4 linked regions of the Homo sapiens genome follow. The protein of the gene in region 2 interacts with the protein of the main gene of each other region in a pairwise test. Each region holds a gene or a part of one and is shown on either strand. Other genes may lie near its edges.

The links.
Region 1: the proteins of ANKRD23 (region 2) and IQUB interact in binary tests that used the Homo sapiens proteins (3 or more experiments, as listed by UniProt).
Region 3: the proteins of ANKRD23 (region 2) and CDCA7L interact in binary tests that used the Homo sapiens proteins (3 or more experiments, as listed by UniProt).
Region 4: the proteins of ANKRD23 (region 2) and CTNNA3 interact in binary tests that used the Homo sapiens proteins (3 or more experiments, as listed by UniProt).

What each region holds. Positions count from the first base shown.
Region 1 is NC_000007.14:123,454,557-123,461,595, forward strand, and holds part of IQUB (IQ motif and ubiquitin-like domain-containing protein), read right to left. Parts: coding exon 6,801-7,039; intron 3,011-6,800; coding exon 2,825-3,010; intron 2,721-2,824; coding exon of another isoform or gene 2,637-2,720; exon of another isoform or gene 1-2,636. UniProt on the Homo sapiens protein: Adapter protein that anchors the radial spoke 1 (RS1) complex to the A microtubule of outer doublet microtubules in axonemes. The triple radial spokes (RS1, RS2 and RS3) are required to modulate beating of the sperm flagellum.
Region 2 is NC_000002.12:96,837,407-96,841,055, forward strand, and holds the end of ANKRD23 (ankyrin repeat domain-containing protein 23), read right to left. Parts: intron 3,507-3,649; coding exon 3,381-3,506; intron 3,109-3,380; coding exon 3,010-3,108; intron 2,925-3,009; coding exon 2,826-2,924; intron 2,690-2,825; coding exon 2,591-2,689; intron 2,420-2,590; coding exon 2,321-2,419; intron 2,239-2,320; coding exon 2,143-2,238; 3' UTR 506-2,142; downstream 1-505. UniProt on the Homo sapiens protein: May be involved in the energy metabolism. Could be a molecular link between myofibrillar stretch-induced signaling pathways and muscle gene expression.
Region 3 is NC_000007.14:21,935,891-21,942,929, reverse strand, and holds part of CDCA7L (cell division cycle-associated 7-like protein), read left to right. Parts: intron 1-2,614; exon of another isoform or gene 2,615-2,668; intron 2,669-7,039. UniProt on the Homo sapiens protein: Plays a role in transcriptional regulation as a repressor that inhibits monoamine oxidase A (MAOA) activity and gene expression by binding to the promoter.
Region 4 is NC_000010.11:67,217,169-67,224,207, reverse strand, and holds part of CTNNA3 (catenin alpha-3), read left to right. Parts: intron 1-4,337; coding exon 4,338-4,601; intron 4,602-7,039. UniProt on the Homo sapiens protein: May be involved in formation of stretch-resistant cell-cell adhesion complexes.

The sequences.
Region 1 (7,039 bases), on a different chromosome or scaffold from region 2:
GATGGGTGGACATCAAGAGACCTTTTTTCCCATTGAAATAAGGTCCATTCTCTTGAAATAGCCATGTGATGGTTTTAAACTATGTTCACAAATTCTTTGGGTGTACAAATAGTTCTAAGAATATTACAGAAAGGTCCCATATACCCCACACCCACATTTTCCTGAATGTGTCTCAATCTGGGTTTGTCCTGTGTTTTCTTCATTATTATTAGACTGAAGGGATGGGTTTTGGGGAGGAAGACCACAGGGGTGAAGTGCCCTTCTCCTCACATCATATCAAGGGTACACACCATCAGCATGACAGCACTGCTGCTGTTAATCTTGATTACCTGGCTGAGGTAGTGTTTGTCAAGTTTCTCTACTGTAAAGGTCCTCCCCTTCCATCCATAATATAGTCTTTGGAAAGGAGTTATTATGTACAGCCCACATTTAAAGGGTAGAGAGTTATTCTCCATCTCCTTAAGAGTGGAGAGTATCTACATAAATTATTTGGAATTCTACATGGGAGATTTGTCTATTTGCCTCCCTTTATTTATTCATTCAGTCGTTTTTTAAATTTTTTAAATTGATAATAATTGTACATATTTACGGGGTACATAGTGATGGGATGATACATATATCATGATCAGAGTAATTAGCATATTCATCTCAAACATTTATCATTTCTTTGTGCTGGGAACATTCGATATGCTGCGTCTAGCTATTTGAAACCATATATTGTAATTAACTATAGACAACCTACAGTGCCACAGAACAGTACTAGAACTCACTCCTCCCATCTAGCTATAATTTTTGTATCCTTAACAAATCTCTCCCTGTTCCCTCAACCTCTGAGACCTTTACTTTCTACATTACATTTTTTATTCTGTTCAGATTCTAAGCCAATAATATATTGCTTTAAAATTAAAAATAAAATGCATCAAAAATTTTTAAAGTGCTTTCATAGTTACTACCTAAGTTTATTCATGCCAAAAAAAACTATGCAGAAAGCTTTAAATAATGGCCTACTCAAAGCTTCCCTATGATGAGATACCATTATCTCTTTTTTATAGACGAGAAAGCTGGGTCATTGAGACATTCACAAATTTGTCCAATTTCTCCCAGCTCATGAATGGTAAAGCTAGAATTCAGAGCCAGAGCTGCTTTTATCCTCTTTACTGATTCCACTTATTTAGCTAATCTTTCTAAAAATTTATGAAGCAAAGAGGGAAGGTTTTAATGTAAAGTTGTCAGTGACAGAGATTTGAGTTAACTGGGTCAGGATTACTGATTTTAAGTCCATGATTGTTCCTACTTTGGCCAGTGTGCACACAAGGAGAGATCAATCTGCTCCACTTAAAGTTCACATTAACGAAAGTGTTTTTCCACGTTTCCTATACCTGTTTCATATTAACTTGCAAGTATTTTTTTAACTTCTTAAGAAAGCAAATATCTCTGAACATTAAGAAAATTCTGAAAATGCTCCATCTTTCTGCAAGATATAAACTACTCTTTAACTGGGCTGAAAGTTAATAGTTAAAAGATTGTATCAGCCCAAAACCATAAAAAAGGCAAATGTTTTTCCAGTTTGTCTGCTTGCAAATCTTGGTGCCCTTTACAGAAATTCGATAAGACTGGCATTCTAAATTAGAAATGCATGTGAATAGAACATTTAATTTGATACTGCAGTAATTTGATTAAATGCACAAAGGGAGTTGTGTGGATTAATTGAAGAAGCACTGGAATATCAGCTTTGGGAATGAACTTCAATCTCATCATGGGTCCTAGATGAAATGATATTGCTAGTATTGACTATGCTTCCTGTGATTAAATATTTATGAGGCAGCTTAGTTTACTAAATATAACATTTAATACAGCTTCAACTTATTGCTACCTTTTCTTTCAATCCCTAGAGTGAAATTTTTCTTAGCCTGGCTTCTTAAAACTAAAAAAATATTTAAAAACTAAAACTTTAGCTAGTTTCTTATCTTTATATTCATCACCCCTTGTTCCACTGAAAAAAAACAAACAGGGAATCACACTATTTTAAACGACTACTGCATTTTGTCATTTCTTTACTTTCCTTTAGCTGACACCTTGTGTGGAATTAAAGAATGCAGAGAATCAGTATTAACTCTCGGGATCCTGGACCTAGTGTAAATGGAGCTCTCTACGAACTCTTCAGGAGTCCCTCAACTTACCCATCAAAATGTTTTACAGATTGCATCATGTAAGTTACTAAAATTACAGTAAATGGCATTTAATGTTTACAGTGCTTGCTCCACTCCCAGCAAGTTGGAAGCAAATGAAAAATGGAGCATCAGAACTACACCCCATCAGTATGATTGCTATTTAGAGCACAAAATTATGAACAAAATTTGAGAGTTGGGTGTTTTTAAGCAGACTCATGATAATTAATCAAAGAAGGACAGATTCTGGGTTCCATAATACCTATCTGGTGGTAATGCACATTTATTCATTCAACAAATACTTATAAACTCCATTCTGTGACAGGCAGTATTGTAGGTATTAGAGAAATAGATGTAAATAAGCCAAACAAAATCACTGCCTTCATGGAATTTACCGTGGAATGTGCTTAAACTTACTATTAGGAGAGACTGGTATGATGTTTAGGACTTGTAATATGTTCAAATCTCTTATATATACCTTTTATTTAATCTGTGCCATATATGCCATCCATAAATTTTTTTGTTGTTAATCCATAAGTTCTGTTTCTTAATCTGATGGAAGTATTTAAGCATGGAATATATTAGAAGGCAGTCCAGTTATCGCTAATAATTCCAATGATTAAATTAACTTCCCAAATAAAATTCAACTTTCTTACCTCTTCAATACTTGTTAGCTTGAGATGAGCAGCTGCTTCATCTTTGGTAAGAAGAATGCAGTTCCAGGGGGACCACTCCAGGGATTTATTCCATCTGACCATGACCAGATCACTGAGATTGTCGCAAGCACTGAGGACTGACTGGGACGCCCAGATGTTCTCTGTCAGGTACTGAATGTCTTGTAGCTGCATGTCAAAGCAAGTTTTAAAAACAATGTAGTTTAAATTTGTTTAAGATTATTATATTACTTGAGCAAATAATTAAATTATAGAGTATTTTTAAGTGAATTATTATTCACTAGGTTTCAATGACACATAGCCCCTTATTTTTCACTAAACTTCTGTTCATTTTGCCTAAACTACATTATCAGTCTCACAGTTGCGTCCCCATCTCTAAACCAGAGTAAGCAGTATAAATTCATTTCAGTATGCTAATTTTACCTGAATATAATCTTAATAATACTATAATGTTACCATAATAAACATATGGTATTGAATGATCTTTAAAATTCATTAGTAAGTACCATCTTAATTTCAGGGCCATTGTAGGGACCTTTTAAAACCTTTTACTGCCATTTTACAAATGAGGAAGCTGAGATTTTTTTTTTTTAATATGGAACACTTCACAAGTTTGCATGTCATCCTTGTCCAAGGGCCATGCTAATCTTCTCTATATGGTTCCAATTTCAGTATATGGGCTGCTGAAGCAAACACAGGAAGTTGAGATTTAATAAAGATAAGTAATTCACTTAGTGTTAATTAAAAGACTTGGTTGTTTTAATCAAAAAGAGGGGTAATGAAATAGCTGTTTAAAACTTTTTAAAAAACGTAAATCTTATCAGCTAAAACTCTTGGAATGACTTTTTATCATGGGGTCTGCATTATAAATTTAGAATTGCCAGAGACGGACAAACTCAACAAAGTATAAGCATGTAAAAAGAATATTTTTTAAAAAAGCTTCTGTGAAAAAGTGTGAGAGCAGAAATATTTTCTGTAAAATGAGTACACAAAACCTAAACAATCTGCCAAAGTAAAAAACAAAAAGAACCTGTCATCATCAGCTACAACAGTATTTCATAAATTGGTAATTCAATATATTAAGCTCAACTAATGCATTCTAGCTTTTACTTAATGCTAAAAAAGACAATACTCTGTACACAGCTGCTATGAAAAATAAATTTATAGACCTTTAAAATTCAATGTTTTATATATTTTACTTACATTCAAAATGCATCTTGTTTACATTTTTGTTTTTAATTTAGTTGCTCAACTGTACTAATAATTTTGAAATTGTATCATACAGAATAACGTGTTTATTTGCATGTAAATGTCAAATGTGCACATAAGTGTGGTTGACAGTCTCTAAGAGCTTTCTACCTTTCAAGTAGTCATTGTACTTGAAATTTTTGCAGTAACAGAGCAATACTATTGCCTATTATATTAGGCAGTATTTGTATGCATTACAGATAAACGAGGTGACTAGTACAACACTCAAATCTCTTGTCTAAGCAGAATGTTTACTTTTTATATATATTAACTTTCACCTTTTCATTTTACATGGCATCATGTTCACATTTAACATATGCTAATCTTTGCTGTTGTCCACAAGATTTACTATTTATGAGAATGTTCAAACATTCAAATTATGCCTCAAATACTATTACTGAAATAAATATTAATCAAAACTACACCAATTACAAGGGGGGGGAAGCTACTGGACACTCATATTTGTCTGCTAATCCTAGACATTGGAAAAGTAATAGACCAAAACCCTACATAGATACGGTACTGAAATTAAATCACATCTAATGGAGATTATCCTTATCTGAAAGGTTACAATGCTCCCCTAGAATTTTTTCATTCAATATGTGTAATGGTTGATTTTACATCAACTTGATGATGCCACCGGATACCCAGATATTTGGTCAAACGGTATTCTGGTGTTTATGTGAGGGTAGTTTTGGATGAGATTAACATTTAAGTAAGTCAGTAGACTGAGTAAAGCAGAGTGTCTTCCATAATGTGAGTGGGCTTTATCCAATCAGTTGAAGGCCTGAATAGAACAAAAAGTTCACCCTGTCCCCAAGTAAGGAAGACTGTTTCTGCCTAATGGCCATTGAATTGAGACACTGGCTCCTCCTGGCTCTATAGCAGCCTGCTGGTCATCAGACTTGAACTGGGCCATCAGCTGTTTAGGTTTTAGACTTACCAGCCTCCACAATTATGTGAGCAAATTCCTTGTAACAAATCTCCTTATATGTATATATATATAACATATATGTATAACATTTTCTATTGGTTCTGTTTCTCAGGAGAAATCTGACTAATACAACATGGAATATTGAGCCAGCACTTCTTGGTGACTTACATTAAAGCCCTAGTACATCTAAGATTCTCTACAAGGAAATATACATCTGTCATGTCAATAATTCCTGAATAAAAGTAGCAAATAAGAATTTAAGCTGAAATAAACATCAAATTTATTAACAAAATATTCATTCTATTGGACAAAATATGTAATCATTTTAATTTGTGCTTTTCAAACTGTGGGTTGCTACCTCTTGGGTGATACCAAAGTTTTCCAAATGGAAATCAGAATAAGTAGACTGAGATTGAATAGAAAATATCAGAGTACATCCATAGGGGTAAAGATAAACACTATTTTGGAAACTTTTATTTCTGAGGCAGAACAGCATGTGTTTACATGTACGGATGCTGGGAATCAGACTGCCTAGTTTTCAATCCTGGTGCTGGTACTTAGTAGCGTAAACTTGGACAAGTTAGTTAACCACTCAGTGCTTCCCTTTCCTCACCTGCAGAATGGAAATAATGCCTATTTTGATAGGATTTTTGTGCTGATTAACTCAATAAAGTGTGTAAAGCCATATAGGTACTGAGTATTGAGAATTATCATGCATGCCTATATCAGGTTGTCATAAAAATACATTTTTACTATAGATTGAGATTTAAAAGTTTGAAAGCTATGGATTTAGAAGAATTTTTTAACAAAGCACATCACATTTGGTATCTTTTTTTTAATCTCTATAAAGTTTTCTATTCATAGTAGTGCCTACTTTCCTATTTGGTATTAAATACAATTTAGTTCATTTTAATTAGTAACTAATTTACAGAAAATTTGCCCTTATTTGACAGTCTGTGAACACAAATATCATTAATGAGGTCAATTGTGCTCTATAATATACTTTTATTAATAAGTGGCTAATGTTGGGTAGCCATATCAACAACAAGTAAGTCCTTCTGTTTTCTCACTTGCTTACCTAAGTCCAAACAGTGTCAGGAATTTGTTTTTATTTTGTAGAGACACAGACTATCCTCTGGCCTAAACCCAATAGAAGACATGGAATAACCAAAGAGACCGAAGTAGTGGTTAAGTTAGGAATTCAGGTCAGAATTCCTGATCTCACAGGCTCCACCCTCTCACAGAGCTAGAAGTTCTTACGAGAAGCAGATTACGTAGGGTCAATGATCCAATGCAATGATTCATCCAAAAGAACTCTGGCCAGAAACTTTCCAGTTGTGTGGTATCATATCAACACTTTACATAGACAAGTATCAAAGCCTTTCCCTAAGGTTTTTTTTTTTTTTTACTTTCTATAAGCCTTAGCTTTCACTTTTGGTGTTATTTACCATTATGGTCACATTTGGTTTACACTAATTATTACTGTTATTCGTAAACACTAGTATGTGTATATGTAACATCAGTTTCTGTAAAAGTCATTCATTCATTCAACAAATATTGAGGGCCTTAAATAAAAACTTGGTACTGTATTAGGTTATAGAGGTATAATGGTGAGCAGGAGGGAAAAAAAGCATACTCCTGCCCTCACAGAGCTTACAGTCTAGTGGAATAGAGAGTCATTAAACAATCACACACACACACACAAACATACATAAGATTGCAAGATAGCCTCCTTGACAAGCTTCAGCTATAATTGGCACCCCTTATTGACCATACCTGCATCAAGAAAGCAATTTTAGAATCATCTTCATAATCAGCTTCTGTATAGTAGAGCTGTTGAAGTAAACATTTGTACTTCAAAAATGATTCTCGTTTTTGAGCCTCATTCTGAAGGTTAATGCAGTTACGACACCGGTATATGCGGCGTGAGGTGGATGATACAGAAAATTCTGTAGAAGGCAAATAAAGCTGGCAACTGTGGCAAAAGTAAATCTTCTTATAAAATTTCAATGGGT
Region 2 (3,649 bases):
GTTAGATTTAAACCGAAGTATTTCCCTTTTTCAGCAATTGTAAACAGTACATATTTTTAACTTTTGTGTCTACATGTTCATTTCTAGGAGGTAGAAACAGGTTTTTGTGTGTTTATCTTGCACCCGAGATTTTGCTGGACTCCCTAGTTGTCTGCTTTCTGTAGATTCCTAGGATTTCCCACATAGACAAGCATGGCCTCTGCATGAGAATACCTGGATCCTCCCCTCAGGGCTTCTGACTTAGGGTCTGGACATCAGGACTTTTTAAACCTTCCTGGTGATTCTGATAAGCAGCTGAGGTGGAGAACCACTGCTCTTTGACCTTGTCGTCAGTGAGCAGAGGTGCCTTAAGCACAAAAGCCTAGTGCCAGGACCCCGCATCCCGCCCACTCTGCACTCGGCCTATCTTGCTGTCGGCCGGCATGGCTAACAGGCGTGGGCCCTATCAGACAGTCCCTGGTGACTGAAGCATGGGCTCCTCTCGGCCCAGGAAAGACGGCTAGGCTGTAATGGATAGCCAGTTTTAATGAACAGAGGATACTGATTGGTATAAAAAGGTGTGTTTGTCACTGAGGTGTCCTCATTTTCTAGATGAGGAGTTGTCTTCTCCATGGTCTTGAACGCCTGCTTCGCCATGGCACCAGCGTCTGGGTGCACGCTGGCTGTCGCCACAGGGCAGGAGCTGCTCATGGAAAGGTGTGTGCCCCTAGTGTGCAGCACTGGTCAGCTTTTCCACATAGTAACAACAGCCTTGTTCTGGGCCTGAGAAGGCCCCCAAAGGTAGACGAAAAGGAACCATGGCCAAATGCCTATCAATCAGCCCGGTACCTAATGTAACCCAGGACCCATGTGAGGGAGGCTGAGCCTTCACCTTTCAGCCCTTCCCTCAGCATGTGGTTCTCAGTTTAGGGCAGAGCTTCTTAAGATTCACTTTCTGGCGTTTAGGGGCCCAGCCCCACCAGCAGTACAGGCCTACACCAGTGTAATTTGAAACGTACAGACGGTGGAAGAGGAAGTCTAGGGAGCTTGGGTCCTTAGACCACCAGGGAGCAGGGAAGGGATGGGAAGGGCTGGGGGGCGGCGGGGGCTCACCTTCCTCTGCTTCCCTGTGGGCTGGGTTCAGAGCTCCTCAGTGTCCTGGCCTCCCAGGTGGGATCAAGCAGGGTGGGTGCAGCTGCAGCGTTCCAGGCAAGAGCTCAAGCTCCAGTACCAGGAACATAAGGGGACATAAGGGCCTCAGGCAAACTAGGGTTACGGGCCACTGCCCCAAGAGTTGAGTGGGCCACAAGCAATCCCCAGTGCCCAGGCGCTTCCCCATGAGAGCCGCCAGCAGGCAACGGTGTGCCAGGCCGGCCTGAGCGGGGCCAGTACACAGTGGGTGCGAGGCTTCTCTCAAATGCGCGCTCCAGCTCATCAGTCTTAGGGCTTCTGAGGCAACCTAGTGGGTCCTGGACTTCTGTTGCTGTGGGGCCTCAAACCTGTTGAGTAGCCACCTCAGATGACCAGAACCCACCTCCAGAGTTCCTATGACCAAAGTTGTCTAGAGCCGCTCCGGACACTGCCAGGGTTGCTACTGACAGGAATGGGGTCCCCAGAGAAAGCCATGCCCACAGGCATCCACCAGCTGCAGACAGGCCCGGCCCCTGCATGGCCTGCCTTGGCTGCACCTTGTACATCCTGGATGGCATCTGCCGGCCACGGGCTGAGTCCCCACACACACAGACTGGCCCTGGAGAGAGCAAGGCAAGCCCCCTAACCTGGGACAAGTGGACACTGAGGACTCCCAGACCCAGCCCTGGGTGGCTCCAGCTTGGGACTGCTCCCTTAAGGCTCGTTCTTGGCCCTCACTCTCCTCCCCTTCCTGGCCCTCATCTGGACCCGCGCTTTCTGCTGCCTTGTGGTCCTCTGCTCCAGCCCTGGGAGGGAACGCGGCTCCCCTGACACTCGAAGCCAGGGAGGCCTCTCTCTTTGCCTGCTGGGCCCGGTGCCGCTCTTCAGTTCTGCCAGGGCTGCTGAGGCGGCACAGGCCAGAGAGGGAGGAACCAGGGCTGAGGGCAGGAACCACAGAGGTGCAGACGCGGGGGCGGGGCACAGGATGGAATGGTGGCAGTGCGAAAGGCGCGGCGGGGGGCGGTGCTGCGGTCAGCACCGGGTGCGGGGATGCGCCACGTGGGCCTGCAGGGCCTCCCGGATGCCGCGCTGCCAGTCTCGAGCCAGCTGCACCGGGGTCACGGAGGCCTGGGAGCAACGGTGTGGGTCAGTCCCTTGCAGGCGCTCCACCCGCCCTCGGGTCAGGAGCCAGGGCTGCGCCCACACTCACCGCGTTCCGCACCCCCAGCTCGGCCCCATAGAGCAGCAGTAGCTTCATGGCTTTGTAGCTGCCGTGCCGCACGGCCTCGTGCAGAGCCGTGTCCCCTTCCTGCTGAGAACGCAGGCAGTCAAGCTTCTGCCTCCGCGTGCTGCCCTCCTCATGCAGGAAGGTCAGGGCTGCTGTCACCGAGCAGACAGCACCTCTGGTCCTGGCTGGGGCTCCTCAGTCCCTGCTCCTCTGGAGCTGTCCGAGCCGGAAAAGACCAAGCGCCTGCCTTACCTTATCCTGTGCGTTCAGGTGGGCGCCACACTCGATGAGGTGCTCCAGGCAGTCGGGGTGCCGGGTGCGCACTGCCACGTGCAGGGGGGTGCTCCCGATCTGAGAGCAAGTGGGGGTCAGTGCTGGGTCTGGATTGGTGAGGCCTCCCTAACCCATGGGACTACGTGCTCTCTTCTCCAGGAACAGCGTCTGCTCCCGTGTTCCCGACAGGCCCCCAAAGCACCGTGCCCCTCACCTTGTCCCGGGCATTGACCCGGGCTCCCTGGTTAAGCAGCTGTTTGAGGATGACCAGATGTCCTCCGCGGCAGGCCCAGAACACAGGTGTCCTGTCCAGCTGCAAAACAAAAGCACCCAAGCACTCAGCTGCTGGGATGTGAAGCTGGGCGTCGACCAGAGGCTGGGCCTTTCCCCATCCTCACCAAGTCTCGCGCGTCCACTGTGGCACCTGCCACCAGCAGCTTGTTCACCAGCTGGCTGTGACCCTTCAGACAGGCCCAGTGCAAGGCGGTGCGGTGGAGCTGAGGGCAGAGATGGAAGATTAGGCAGAGGGAGTGCAGCCACCCCTAGAGACCCCACGCGGTCCCCTTCCCAGGGCCAGGTCCCTGAATGGAATTGCCACTTCCCCCACCACGCGATGGGCCGCTCCCTCTCCTCCGTCTGCAGGTGCCACTGGATTCATGCCCATAAGAGTGAAAATCCCTGCAGCCTCCTAGGCCAGGACTTGAACACACTGAAGGCAGCGCTCCTGCAGCTGCAGCTGCTGCCAGCCGACTCACCCAACCTGTGCTACCTTGTCATGGGCATTGGGGTCCCCTCCGTCTGTCAAGTACTTGTCAATCAGGTACTCCTGGTTCTCAGCAGCTGCCTTCAGGAACATCTCCAGGCCCACAGGCTCCACCTGGGCCTGGGACTGCGGCTGGTTCAGTTGAAGACAAGACCAAATCACTCCCGAAGGCCGCAGGTGCCCAAGATGTCACAGCTTCACCAGTCTGGCCCACGGGTCCCATGCAGCCCACCAAGGAACACTGCTGGCTCGTACTAATGCAGTTTCTTATTCTA
Region 3 (7,039 bases), on a different chromosome or scaffold from region 2:
AGGGGTATTTTTCTGGTATTGGTCTCTTAGCTGCAAAGTGCTCCCATCTGATCCTGTTGTTTAACATGTAATTCCAGAGCCCCAGAAGCTGGTCACAGAAAGGACAATGATTTGCCACTCTAATAGTCTTGTATTTAAAACGCTCCTTGGTTGTTCTGTGTTCTGCTGGCTACCCCATCCATAGCAGAGCAGGATTCTCAAAAATCAGGCGAAAACCTCAGAGATCATAATGATTCTGATCAGGTACACAGGCCAGGAAACAATGAGATAATTGTGGCCTAAAACAATTACAAACATTAGAGTAAATTAATGAAAAAGATTAGAACATCATTGGAATAGAATAAGCCAGGCATTACATTTAAACTGCTCTTGAGAGTTTTCCTTTACTCAAAGTTATGTTTTAGAATATTTACCTCCAGTATACAGTTTTGTTTTAGAAAAGACTCGGCTTTATTCACCAAAATGGAATAGATTACAGGCTACTTAAAGTAGGTAGGGATAGAGATAAGAAAATACTACTGGGGCCATTTTGTTCTTTTTGTTTATGAAAAGCAGTGCTTTCTGTAGTTTTTTTGAAATAGGACCATTCAGAGGCATATTTGGTAAATACCACTGAAGTTAACACTCAGAAAAATGTATCTTCCATAGTAGTAAATGCTAGCACCCTGCATGCAGCACAGAAATAAAGTGTGGAGTCTCACAGTGCAAGGGGCCTGAGCTTTAGTTCAAATAAATCGTTGATGTTTCCTGCCTGTTTTCCTTCATGATCATCAGCTGAGGATAGAGGGCTTGCTGACTGGGTTAGTACACTGATCAGATAGTCAGTTGAGCACCGGTTATGTGCTAGGCATTGGTAGGGTGGAAGAACAAAGACACAGAAAACACGCCTCTTTCCCCACACTCTCTACCAGAAGGCCATGCTTGAACTCCCTTCCTCTTCTGCTTTTGCCAGAGCTCAGCTGGCTCCTGCTCTGTGCTATGGGGACCTGGGGGACCTTGGGTTTGGAGAGTAGAGGGAGACCTTAAGAGCCATCCTTTTTTGCCCCCAAGGAATGGAAACTATCACTTCCTTTTAAAAGTCATGCTGTGCTAAGTACTTAAAAGTTATCAGATTTAATCCCCACTGTAGTTCTGTGAAGTAGGTTGTGTTATCTGCCTTTTAAAGATAAGGCTAAATTGACTAATTTGCTCAGGGCAATTTGTAAGGAATTGGCCCTTGCTGCTGGAATCACCGGGCCTTGGTGAGTCAGGAAACTTGCCCTGTTCCCTCCTCCCTTTAACTAGAAGGGCTGGAGTGTTAACAGCAGCTAGTCTGGTTCTTTTTTAGGAACTCACCAGATTATGCTTTATACTGCCTGTAAAAGTCAGTTTGGGAATGTGAATAAGATCCACCAAGCTTTTACATAGGAATGACTTTTATGTGAAATTTGCATTGTACAAACAATAACATGTTACCGTAAGCTGCACTGAACCACTTCTCTGCTTCCCCTACTCTCCGTGCCCCATTTTCTGCAGTTTCCATGAAGTGTTTGCCTGTAGCACAGTCGTCATCTTTGTCTAACCTTTACAGTATGATTGCTGTTGGAATCTGCTTTCCTTAGCACTATCAGCATTACTTTTCCTAGTAGCGTAGAGATCTTTACAGTTTTCATTTTTAGTGACTGTCTAGTGTTTCTAGATGTGTATTTTATGTATTTTCTGTTGAAAAAATATTTTTTTCTTTATTAGAGGAAATAAATATCTCAGGGTGGTATACTGTATATCTTACGGCTTGTGTTGGAGTCTGCACTATTTTTAATAACTCTTTATAATGTATTTAATATCTCATAAAGGGAATGTGCCTGATTTTCAATGGTTAGGAGCCTCTGACACATTGTTTTCCTAGGGCATTTCCCCTTTTGTTGCGCTATATTAGCTGAAAGAAAGCAGTTTTTGCTGAGGTTAGAACCAAGCTTATGATAACTGGACTGAAAGAATGTTGTCTCCTTGAACTTAGAGCATCTCATAGAATGTTCTAGTTGGGGGGAAAGTGGAGAGTAGTCCCAGAAATCTGTTCTTTACATCCGGTCTGCCTAGAAAACCAAGAAAACCTATAAATGTGTCAGTGGACATTTAGTGGAAGTGACTGCAGATTAGGGCTATGGGGAATTTGTGGCAAGTTGGTCTCATTGACTTGGCGGAAGGCAGGGACACCCCATCCACAGCGCCCACATTCATGCTTCCACCTGTGCATCTACAGCAGGTTCTCCAGGGTGACTGCATCCTGCAGCTATGTAGGTTACTGCTCCTGGAAGTCTTCCCATCCATTGCCCCCACCGCTGGCTCAGGTGCTCGCCCTGGGAACTTCTGGAGTACCTGGGCTGACTTCCCTGATCACATTTATCATACCACACTGGAATTGTTTAAAGATTGTTTCTCTTACCCTACCACTTACGACTCAGTTTTCATCAGCTCTCTTAGCATGGTGTCTGGCATATATTTGATGCTTAGGAGACGATGTCCAGCATGTATTAGATGCCTAATAAATATCCATTGAATGGATGGAAGGGCAAAGTAGTATTGTTAGTAATATACTCTTTTAATTAACATTTATATAGCGTTTTCTACTTTTCAGAGCACTTCGCAGGCATAGTTTGGAAGTCATCAGGGCTGGTTCTTTTCCTTCCAGGTAAGTGGTGTAGGGTTGCACTTTCCTGGCCCTGAAACAGTCAAGGCTATTTGACTTGCTTTGGCCAGTGGAATATGAGAAGTACTATATGTCACTTCTAAGTGAATTATTTAAATGCCAGCATACCACTTACTGTATCTCATTCCCTCTGCCACTGCATCTGTCAGCATTCTGCAGAGTGGTAGCTCTATCAGCCCAGGTTCTGGTGTGAGGACAGTGTGGAATAGAGCCTTGGGCTGGCCTGTGATGGACATGTAATGTGAACAAGACGGAAGCCTTTTTTTTTTTTTTTTTTTTTGGTTTGAAGCTATTGATTGAGATTTAGGGTTGTTTGCTACTGCTTTATAGCTTGTCATATCCTAACAGACCAGGGTGCTCCTATTTCAGTTTTGGATTCAATCACTCTGTGGTTGTCATCTGAGTGATCTGGGGTCATGGTAGTCGTGGTAACAAACGTGGGTGGGTTTCTTTTTGATTGTTAGAGTGATGAGGGTGAGGGGAATGCCCCTGGTAAGTGGTTTGGAGTTCAGGGGTATTAAGTACCATGTGGCAGGCAGGAGAGTCCTACAGGATGAAGCAGTTGTTCTGTCCAAAACGTCAGTTGCACCTTGTTGGAAAACACTGAGAACAGACTTGTCCAATTTGATAATCTTTTAGACTCCAGAGAAATCTTAACATTGGCTTCACATGTTCTATCTGCTGACCTCCCTGGAGGAGGAAATTACTTCACACTTCCCAAGTGATTTGGTTCACTTCACTCCCAGGATCTCTGCCAAAATTCCAGTTCATTAGGTACTCATCTGCTGAATAGCTCTTCTAAGACCTGTGTAAATACATATCTAAAATGACTTCCCATTTATTTCTTCTCTTTTAAACATAACATTGACTACCCTGTGGGGCTTTTTATTGTGGTAAGATATACATAATAAAAGGTACTATTTTTAACCTTTCAGTGTTACTAAGTATAGTCACAATGTTGTGCCGCCATCACTGATCTCTCATGAGCTTTTTCATCATTTTAAACTGAAACTCTCTACCTACTAAACAATTACCCCTATGACCTCTTCCTCCAGCCCCTGGTTACTTCTGTTTTAGTTTCTGTCTCTGAGGATATGACTATCCTAGGTATCTCATATGAGTGGAATCATATGGTATTTGTCCTTTTGTCACTGGCTCATTTCACTTAACATTGTTATTAAAGTTTATCCATGTTATAGTATGTATCAGAATTTTTTTTCAATTATTTCTCTTTTGAGACAGGGTCTCACTCTGTTGCCCAGGCTGGAGTGCAGTGGTGCTATCGTGGCTCACTGCGCCTTGACCTCCTGGGCTCAAGTGATCCTCCCACTGCAACCTCTTGAGTAGCTGGGACTATAGGTATGTACTACCCTGCTTGGCTAATTTTTCTTTTTAAAATTTCTGGTAGAGATGGAGTCTCTGTGTTGCCCAGGTTGGTCTTGAACTCCTGGGCTCAAGCAATCCTCCTGTCTTGGCCTCCCAAAGTGCTGGGATTAGAGGCATAAGACACTGTGCCTGACGTCATTTCTTTTAAAGTCTGAATAATACTCTTATGTGTACATACCATCTTTATTTACTCATCTATTTATGTTGTCGGTTGTTTCCACCTTTTGGCTATTGTAAATACCAATGAATAAACATTGGCATACAAATATCTGCTTCAGTCCCTGCTTTCAGTTGTTCTGGGTGTGTGTTCCTAAAAGTAGAATTGCTGGGTTATATGATAATACTAAATTCAATTTTTTCAGAAACCACTATACTGTTTGGCACAGTGGCTGTGTCATTTTATATCATCATAAGCAGTGCACGAGTGTTCCAATTTCTTCACGTCTTTGCCAGCCCTAGTTCTTTCCTGGATTTTTTTTTAATGGCCATTCTAATGTGCATAAAGTGGTATCTCATCGTGGTTTTGTTTTGCATTTCCCCAATGATTAGTGATGTTAAGAATTTTTTTCTTGTGCCCGTTGGTCACCTGTACCTCTTCTTTGAAGAAATGTTAATTCAAGTCCTTTGCCCATTTCTTAACTGGGTTTTTGTAGTTGTTAAGTGAGTTATTTATATATCTTGGATATTAATCCCTTATTAGATATTATTTGCAAATATTTTCTCTCATTCTATATAGGTTGCCTTTTCACTGTCTTGATAGCGCCCTTTGCACAAAAGTTTTTAATTTTGAGGTCTAGTTTATTTATTTTTCTTTTGTTGCCATATCCAAGAAATTATTGCCAAATTCAGTGTCATGAAACTTTTCCCCTGTATTTTCTTCCATGAGTTTTATAGTTTTAGCTCTTATATTTAGATCTTTGATCCATCTTGAGTTAGTTTTTATAGATGGCTTAAGGTAAGGGTCCAACCTAATCCAATTTTCCCAGCACTGTTTGTTGAAAATACTGTTCTTTGCCATTATTCTTGGCATCCTTGTTGAAAATTAGTTAACTGTATATGCAAGGGTTTGTATCTGGGCTCTTTATTCATTTCCATTGATATATATGTCTGCCTTTATGCCAAGACCACACTGTTTTGATTACTATAGCTTTGTAGTAAGTATTGAAGTCAGGAAATGTGAGTCCTCTAACACTGTTCTTTTTTTTTTTTTTCTTTTTTAAGGGATGGAGTCTTGTTCTGTCACCTAGGCTAGGGTGCAGTGGTGCAATCTCGGCTCACTGTAACCTCTGCCTCCTGGGTTCAAGCAATTCTCCTGCCTCAGCCTCCCGAGTAGCCGGGACTACAGGCACATGCTGCCATGCCTGGCTAATTTTTTTTTGTATTTTAGTAGAGATGGGGTTTCACCATGTTGCCCAGGGTGGTCTGAAACTCCTGAGTTCAGGCAGTCTGCCCACCTCAGCCTCCCAAAGTGCTAGGATTTCAGGTGTGAGCCACTGCGCCTGGTCTGTTCTTCTTTTTTAAGATTGTTTTGGCTATTTAGGGTCCTTTGAGATTCCACATTAATTTTAGGATGGACTTTTGTTTTTACGAAAGAAGTCACTGAGAGTTTGAGAAGGAATACATTGAGTCTGTACATAGCTTCAGTTAGTATTGTCACCTTATATTAAGCCTTCCAATCCATGAACATGGGATGGTTCTCCATTTCCTTGTCTTCCTTGATTTTTTCGGGGATGTAGTTTTCAGTGTACAAGGCTTTTTTCGCCTTTTTGGTTAAACTTATTTCTAAGTACTTTATTATTCTGATGCCATTGTAAATGGAATCGTTTTCTTAATTTTCATAATTGTTCATTGTTAGTGTGTAGAAGCATAGTTGATTTTTGTGTTGATTTTGTGTCCTGCAATGTCTAATTGTTAGCTCTAACTACTTTTTGTGTAATCTCTAGTGTTCTCTACATATATAATCACGTCTCTTATAGCAGAGATAAATTTTGCTTCTTCCTTTCCAATTTGGATGCGTTATTTATTTTTCTTGCCTGATTGGTCTGGCTAGACCTCCCAATACTGCGTTGAATAGAAGTGGTAAAAGCAGGCATATTTGTCTAGCTCCTGATCTTAGGGGAAAAGCTTTCAATCTTCCATTCATCATTGAGTATCTTGTTAGTTGCGGGTTTTTCGTATATAGCCTTATGTTGGTGAGTTTAAGTTTCCTTCTATTTTTTTTTTTTCTGATGAGGGAAGGGTGTTGAATTTTGTCAGATGTTTTTCTGCATCAGTTGAGATGATCTTTGTTTTTCCCCTTTATTCTGTTCATAGGGTGTACTACATTAATTGATTTTTATGTGTTTGAACCATTTTGCATTCCTAGAATAAATGCCACTTGGTGATCTTGTATAATCCTTTTGCTACACTGCCGAATTTGTTTTACCTGCATTTTGTTGAGTATTCTTGTATCAGTATTCGTAAGAGATATGGCTGTATAGTTTTCTAGTATCTTTCTCTGGCTTTGGTATCAGGATAATGCTGGTCACATAGAATGAGTTTCAAGTGTTCCTCCTTCTTCAAGTTTTTGGAAGACTTTGAGAAAGACTGGTGTTTGTTCTTCTTTAAATGTTTGGTAGAATTACCCATGAAGCCATCTTGTCCTGGGGTTTACTTTGTTGGGAGGGTTTTGATTACTACTTAAAATCCTTATTTCAAATATATTCAGATCTTCTGTTTCTTCATAATTTAATCTAGCTAGGTTGTTTGTTTCTCGGGATTTATCCATTATATCTAGATAATCCAATTTGTTGGCATACGGTTGTTTATAGTACTCTTAAAATCCTATTTATTTATTTATTTATTCATTTTGAGACGGAGTCTTGCTCTGTCGCCCAGGCTGGAGTGTAGTGGCACAGTAGCGGCTCACTGCAACCTCCGCCTCCTGGGTTCAAGCAGTTCTCTGTTTCAGCCTCCCAAGTAGCTGGG
Region 4 (7,039 bases), on a different chromosome or scaffold from region 2:
AGATGAGTAAGTTCTAGGGACCTAACTCACAGCATGGTGAAGACAGTTAATAATAATGTATTGCTTACTTGAAATTTGCTAAGAGAATAGATCTTACATGTTCTCACAGCACATACACACAAACGCAAAGGGTAACTGTGTGGTGATGGATATATTGATTAATATGATTGTAGTAATCATTACACAATGTATATGTATATGAAAGCATCATATAGTACACCTTGAATCTACACAATTTTTATTTGTTAATTGTACCTCAATAAAGCTGGAAAAAAGATTCACATTCTCTGAGAAATTTTATTTAATCCCTTCAAACTGAGAGACTGTCCTCTATGCTGTGGGTAACTCTATTTTAGTTCCCATGTAAATGTGTTTATTTGTCTCCCCTCCTGATCTTTATCTTTGCATTTCCAACATTTAGCACACTGCCTTGATGCAAAGTCGAGGCTCAGCATAGGAGAGGCTCAACATAGTACAGGTTGAAGGAATGGTTGAATTAATTAACTGATAGCTTAAAGCCCTCCACTTGTATTTTTTAAAATAATATTCCTAAATATATTTTGTTCTCTTGCCAGGGTTAAAACTCATATGTTACTTCTCTACCCACTTGCACAGACTTTAAGGTCTTTTTAAATCCCATCTGTGTGTTTCTTCGTCAGCTGGAAACATTTAATGTCTTCTTAACTTGGAAATCTCCTGTGAGCTTTCTTCTGGAGCATTTAAAAAAAGATTATAAATAAGTATCAATCCTTGAGGAGCTGAATTCTTTATACTTCTCCATCCAAAGAAATCCCTGATTAACTTTACTGTTTAATGCCTATTTTGACTTTATGTAAAATTTTAGGGTAAATGGACAAACAAGAACCTTTGAACCTATGGTATCATCAGTTAAAATAAAACAACTACAAACACCACTACCACAACATACATTTAGGAGGTGACAGTCATTAATTTCTCTTTTATCTGTGTGCCTATTTACTACATTAAGTTTATCATGCTTGATGTCCTTTGGGAGAAATGGTCATGCCTTGTCAGTTTTCCTTACATAAACTCTGCCACCTGCCCCTTTGCCCCTGTCCACTGCTGTAACGTTATATTTGTTATGTTCACTGATCTAGTCCTTTTTCGCAGGCGTCAAGGACTTGCTATTTGGGCTCATGGATTCTGTAATTGCCTTGGGCAGAGATGACAAAGCATAGGCTCCAAATTCAAAATACATTTGTATTTTTAACATTTCAAAGTCCCCATGGCATTAAAGTTACTACAATTTACCATCAGATTACACATTGCTACCATTAGAGCAAAAGAAATAATTTTAACTTTAGCTTCTTGATTATAATCTATGTTCAAGTTTTTCACCTTTCAGAAACAAACTAAACCTTGACACTGTCCTTCTAAATAAAGAAGCATAATGTATAGGTCACTTCAGAGAGAATTATGTATTAAGTTGTGATTGTACAGTAATATCAGAGAATTTGCCTTACCTTTTTCTAAATATTTATACTTTTAATTATTACTCATCTGAGGAGCTGTGCATCCTTTCTAAACATTAAACTATTTATCCTCTAAGTTACACTGATGACTGTAGGTAGAGCTTGTACAACGTTGTGGGAAATACAAAAATCACTAAGATTATCAGTACAGAAACAGTACACCAAGTTTGACAGATGTAAGGAATAAAACAATTCCGTATTCTTTCTACACCTTTTCTCTATTTTCCACTTATATTCCATTTCTGATGTGCTATGTACTCAATCTTGTGAGAGGGTCGGCAGAAGTATCATTATCCCATTTTTACAGATAGAAAGACAGACACCGAAAGAGATGAGTTACCTAGCTCACAGTGCTAATGACAGAACTAAAACTAAAACCCAGACCACATATACAAGGGGGAAATCGTAGCAAGCCAAGAAAACCATAGTGTCTTTTCTTGGGTGATTAGTGACTATGAACAGTGGGTTGATAGCTACTTCTAACTGTCCTCCCTACATTTTGTAACGAAGTTAATCTCTCCAAAGCCTGAGTGAAGTAGCAGACAGTGTTTATTTTCAGAAGGGAAGGAACTAAAAATATAGTAGCACAAGCCATTTATTAACCTCATGCAACATTATTCCCAGAGTAGCAGAGTCTTGTGAAAAGGCATAAGGTTAGCAATCAGTAGACTTAGGTTTAGATCTCTGTTCCTTTACTAGTTTCTATCTCCTTGCACCAAACACCTGTTTAGTTAAAATAGGACTAATAATAGCAGCCTCATTCCCTCAAAGACTATTGTCATGATCAGTAAGATACTGTATAGAAGCACTTTATAAGCTACATGATATTATACAAATACAAGTCCTCATTCTGTGTAGCAAATAAGAAATTTTTCCACTTTGGGAGGCCGAGGCGGGCGGATCACAAGGTCAGAAGATCGAGACCATCCTGGCTAGCATGATGAAACCCCGTCCCTATTAAAAATACAAAAAATTAGCTGGGTGTGGTGGTGGGTGCCTGTAGTCTCAGCTACTCAGGAGGCCGAGGCAGGAGAACTGCATAAACCCAGGAGGCGGAGCTTGCAGTGAGCCTAGATCGCGCCACTGTACTCCAGCCTCGGCGACAGAGCGCGACTCTGTCATAAAAAAAGAAAAAAGAAAAAAATTTTTCCTATGTAGGAAATAATGTCACATAGTTTTTAGGATAAGGGCTTGGAAGTTATACTGACGTGGGTTACAATACAAGAAATACCACCATCTAGCTCTGCCACTTGGCTAAGAAACTTAGTCTCTTGAAACCTTAGTGTTTTGAGTTTTAAAATGGGAATAATCACATCTCTCATGAGTTTTTATAAAGATTATATGAAATGTTGTATATGAAGTGAATGAACTATTGTAAATGTCCCTTGAATTAGTTTTTTTTAACTTAAGCTTTTATTTGGGAGTAATTTTAGATTTACAGAAAAGTTGCAAAGGTGGTACAGAGAGTTCCCATTTACCTTTTTTCCAGTTTTCTCCATTGTTAATGCTGTATCTTACATTTGCCACTACAAAGAAATGGATACTGATGCATTGCTATTAACTATTAATAATGGTTATTTGGATTTCAGCAGTTTTTCATGAATGTTTTTTCTGTTCCAGGATCTAATCCTCAGTACCACACTGCATTTAGTTATGTCTCCCCAATCTTCTCTGTTCTGTGACAGCTTGTCAGTCCATCTCCTGTTTTCCATGATGTTAATGGTCTTGAGGAATACTGCCCAGGTGTCATTTAGGATGTTCACCAATCTCATTTTGTTTGTTGCTTTTCTCATGATTAGACTGGAATTATGGGTTCCTGGAGGGAATACCACAGAAATGGCATACTTTTCCTGTCACAGTATATCAAGGGGTACATGATATCCATGTGATATCACTGATTATGTTAAATTTCATCACTTGGTTAAGGTAGGGCTTGCCAGATTTTTTTCTTGTATATTGAGCTAGTTCTGATCGCCTATCACTTAGACAGGGCATTCTCTTTCCTCTCTTCTCTCTGATGTAATGCTATTCATTTACATTTACTGCAAATTGTCATCTCTGAAGAAATACCTTCTCGGACCATTCAGCCTAAAGCAGCTTTTCCTTTCAAGTCAATCTCTATGACACTTCACTTTTGTGTTTTCTTCATAGCATTTATTGTCACCTGAAATCATCTCGTATATTTGTTCATCTAGTTCATTGTTTGTCTGTAGGCCCTTTCCCCCCAAAAGAAAGAAGAACAAGGTCCTTGTAGGATTTTTTCATATCTGTACACTGGAGTCCAGCACAAGGGCTAGAATATGCTAAGTGCTCAGTAACTAATTGTTGAATAAATATCAAAGAAAGAATGATATAGGATTAATTTATTAGTATTTCTGAAAAAGAAAAATAGCTGAATGGTGGGAGGTTTCATTAGTGTTCTTAACTCAATTGGTCTAATTTTAACGGAGAGGTTAAATGCAATTATCAACATCTATGGAATGAGGTAATCAGCATCCTTGTAATTCAAGCTCCCATGTAATGCACTTAATAATGTGAATGCCAGAGTATTTTAGCTACTTATAAGGATTTGACTGACAAGGACTTGACTGAATAGTAATGGATCTTTACACATCTGCTCTACGGGGACCTTTACTTATTAACTGTGTCATTGTTTATACTGCAGAATTTTTAACAGAAACTGAAAGAATGTAGAAATAATAGATGCCCTTGATTATAACTTATAGCTGACTTCTTCATGTCTATTATCTTTTCATTTATACTTACAAAAAAAGAAGCTTTTTAATTTAAGTCTTTCTCCCATAACCCATTGTAAGATACCACTCTTTTTATTTACCTTCTCAGGACTTAAAATCTCCAAATCAGAGAGATGAAATTGCAGGAGCCCGAGCTTCACTGAAGGAGAACTCTCCCCTCTTGCATTCAATTTGTTCAGCTTGTTTGGAGCATTCTGATGTTGCTTCCCTCAAAGCAAGCAAGGACACAGTTTGTGAAGAAATTCAGAATGCTCTCAATGTAATTTCAAATGCTTCACAAGGGATCCAGAATATGACAACCCCACCAGAACCTCAGGCAGCAACCCTGGGAAGTGCCCTTGATGAGCTGGAGGTAAGTCGGGAGAAAGATAAAGTGTGATCTGATGTCCTAATACAGTAATAATAATAATAAAACAGAAGAAGATCCACATGTTGGCGTTTAGAGCATGAGAAAATAAAAAATCCAGATTAGTCTCTATCACCTTCTTGAGTCTTCCAAAGAATTGATTAACAGGAAAGTACTCTGTTAGTAAACTTCTGACTCCTGTACATCTCTGCCAAGGAATCCAATGAATTTGAAGTGGGATTGTTAATTAGATCGAAATGATGACTTTGTTTTATGTAGATCTACTTATGAAGCATAAGATTTATTCACTCCACAAATACTTATTGGCATTACTGTTCTATGTGCTTGGGACATATCTGATCACTTCCCTTGACAAATTTTTACATTTTAGCAGGTGATTATAGGCAAAAAATAAAACCAATAAACACTGTAGAGAACAAAATTGTATAGATGTTACACTGAGAAGGTGAGATAATGCCAAAGCCTTGAAAGAGTTCAGGAATCGGGCAGATGAAGATCTAGAGCAAAGGCTTGAAGGTATGTGCCCTGTGTTTAAGTGACAACATAAAAACCAGGGTGTCTAGGTGAAGACAGCAAAGTGATGAGTAGCAGGAGCTAAGGTTGGAGAACCAACCATTTAGGAGTGTGTATGCCTTTAAGGACTTTGGCTTTTACTCCAAGTTAAATGGGAATACACTGAAAGGTTTTAAGCAAAGGTGTGACATGCTGCGACTCGTGTCTTAAAAGGACTATGATAGTTGCATAAGGAACATAGACTGAAGGAGAACAATGAGAGGAACTGAAAAACCAGGCTGGAGGCTATTGTAGTAACCCAGGTTCCATTTATACACTTTACATGAACCACCTCATGTTTTAGTTTAGACTAGAGTGGTGTTGGTGGACATCAGTGCTAAATTTTGTAAATAGAGTCAACTGAATTTTGATAGAATGGATGTGGGACATGAATGAAAGGAAGGAGTCATGGCTAGTGTTGTAGGCTGGGTCCTCCAGAATCACACACAGAATGGAGTTTGGAAAACAAGGTGTTACATTTGGGAAGGAAAGAGGGAAGGAGCGGGACTGGATAGAGGAAGAAGTCTACCTGACAGCTAGACCCGCAAAGCCTAGGCCAATCAGCAGGGAGCTCTGGTGAGAGCATTGCCCTCCAGAGTGTACCTTGTCAGGCAGAAATGGCCAGGCCTGTATGTCTCTTTCAGTCACTGGATGCAGGTTACTCTACCCTGGGAAGGGTATGACCTTTAGGGGCCTGAAACACTCTATATACACACTGAATATGTATTACTTTTGCACCATGATAAAGCTGGAAAAAATTATAAGTTGAACCATTGTTAAATCAAGTCAGGGACCATCTGTAGTCTGTATCTGGGGAGTGCCGAGTGTGATACATTGAAATTTGTTAGAGTAGATAGATAGGATCATACGGGTTGAGCATCCCTTATCTGAAATGCTTGGGACCAGAAGTGGTTTGGATTTTGGAATTTTTTGGATTTTGGAATATTTGCATATACCTAATGAATTATCTTGGGAATGGGATTGATGTGTAAACATGAAATTCATTTATATTTCATATATACCCTATACACATAGCCTGAAGGTAATTTTATACAACATTTTAAAAATTTTGTGCATGAAATGATGTTTTGACTGCATTTTAACTGCGACCTGTCACATGAAGTTAGATGCTGAATTTTTCCCTAGTGCCATCACATTGGCATTCAGAAAGTTTTAGATTTTGGAGCATTTTGGATTTCAGATTTTTAGATTAGCAACGCTCAACCTGTATAGCACATTTTTCACAGTACTAAAACACAATTGTGTCAGAGAATGCTCCCATAAGAGCTCCAGTTTATCTCAGACAATGCATTCTGTATTTTAGGATTAAAGAAGAAGACATTTCCAAATTGTTCCTCCTTCTGAGACCTCTTCTCTTTTCTCTTTTTAGTTGAAAGTGACTGCCACAGGCACAAAATGGCAGTGGTTGGAGAGGAGGAGAAAGTGTGCGTGTTATGTGTGTAACTTCAGTGGGAGTGGGCATAGGCAGGGCAACAGTGTTCTCTTAAGAAAGGCAGACTCAGTTGTTCTTCATGAGGCGGGAAGGGGTCCAAAAGATATTTCTCTGAGATCCTAATGAGGATTCTAAACTGTCTGAACAACCTTTGAAATTTAGTTCTAGTCAAAGGTACAGATGCACAAACTAGTAAAAAATGCCTAAGTTTTCTATATTTTTTATATCCAAGTTACAAATAGCTGCTGTGGCTGACTGAACTAGATAAAGCAGAATTTATTGAGCATTTAACCTTTTTTAATGATTTGGTAAATTAAATGGTTGCACTTTTCATTATTTACAGGAAGCTGTATTGGTAAAGGATCCAAAATAACCTTTGCTCTATTTTGCTCCTGCAAATATAATACTATGAAGTAAA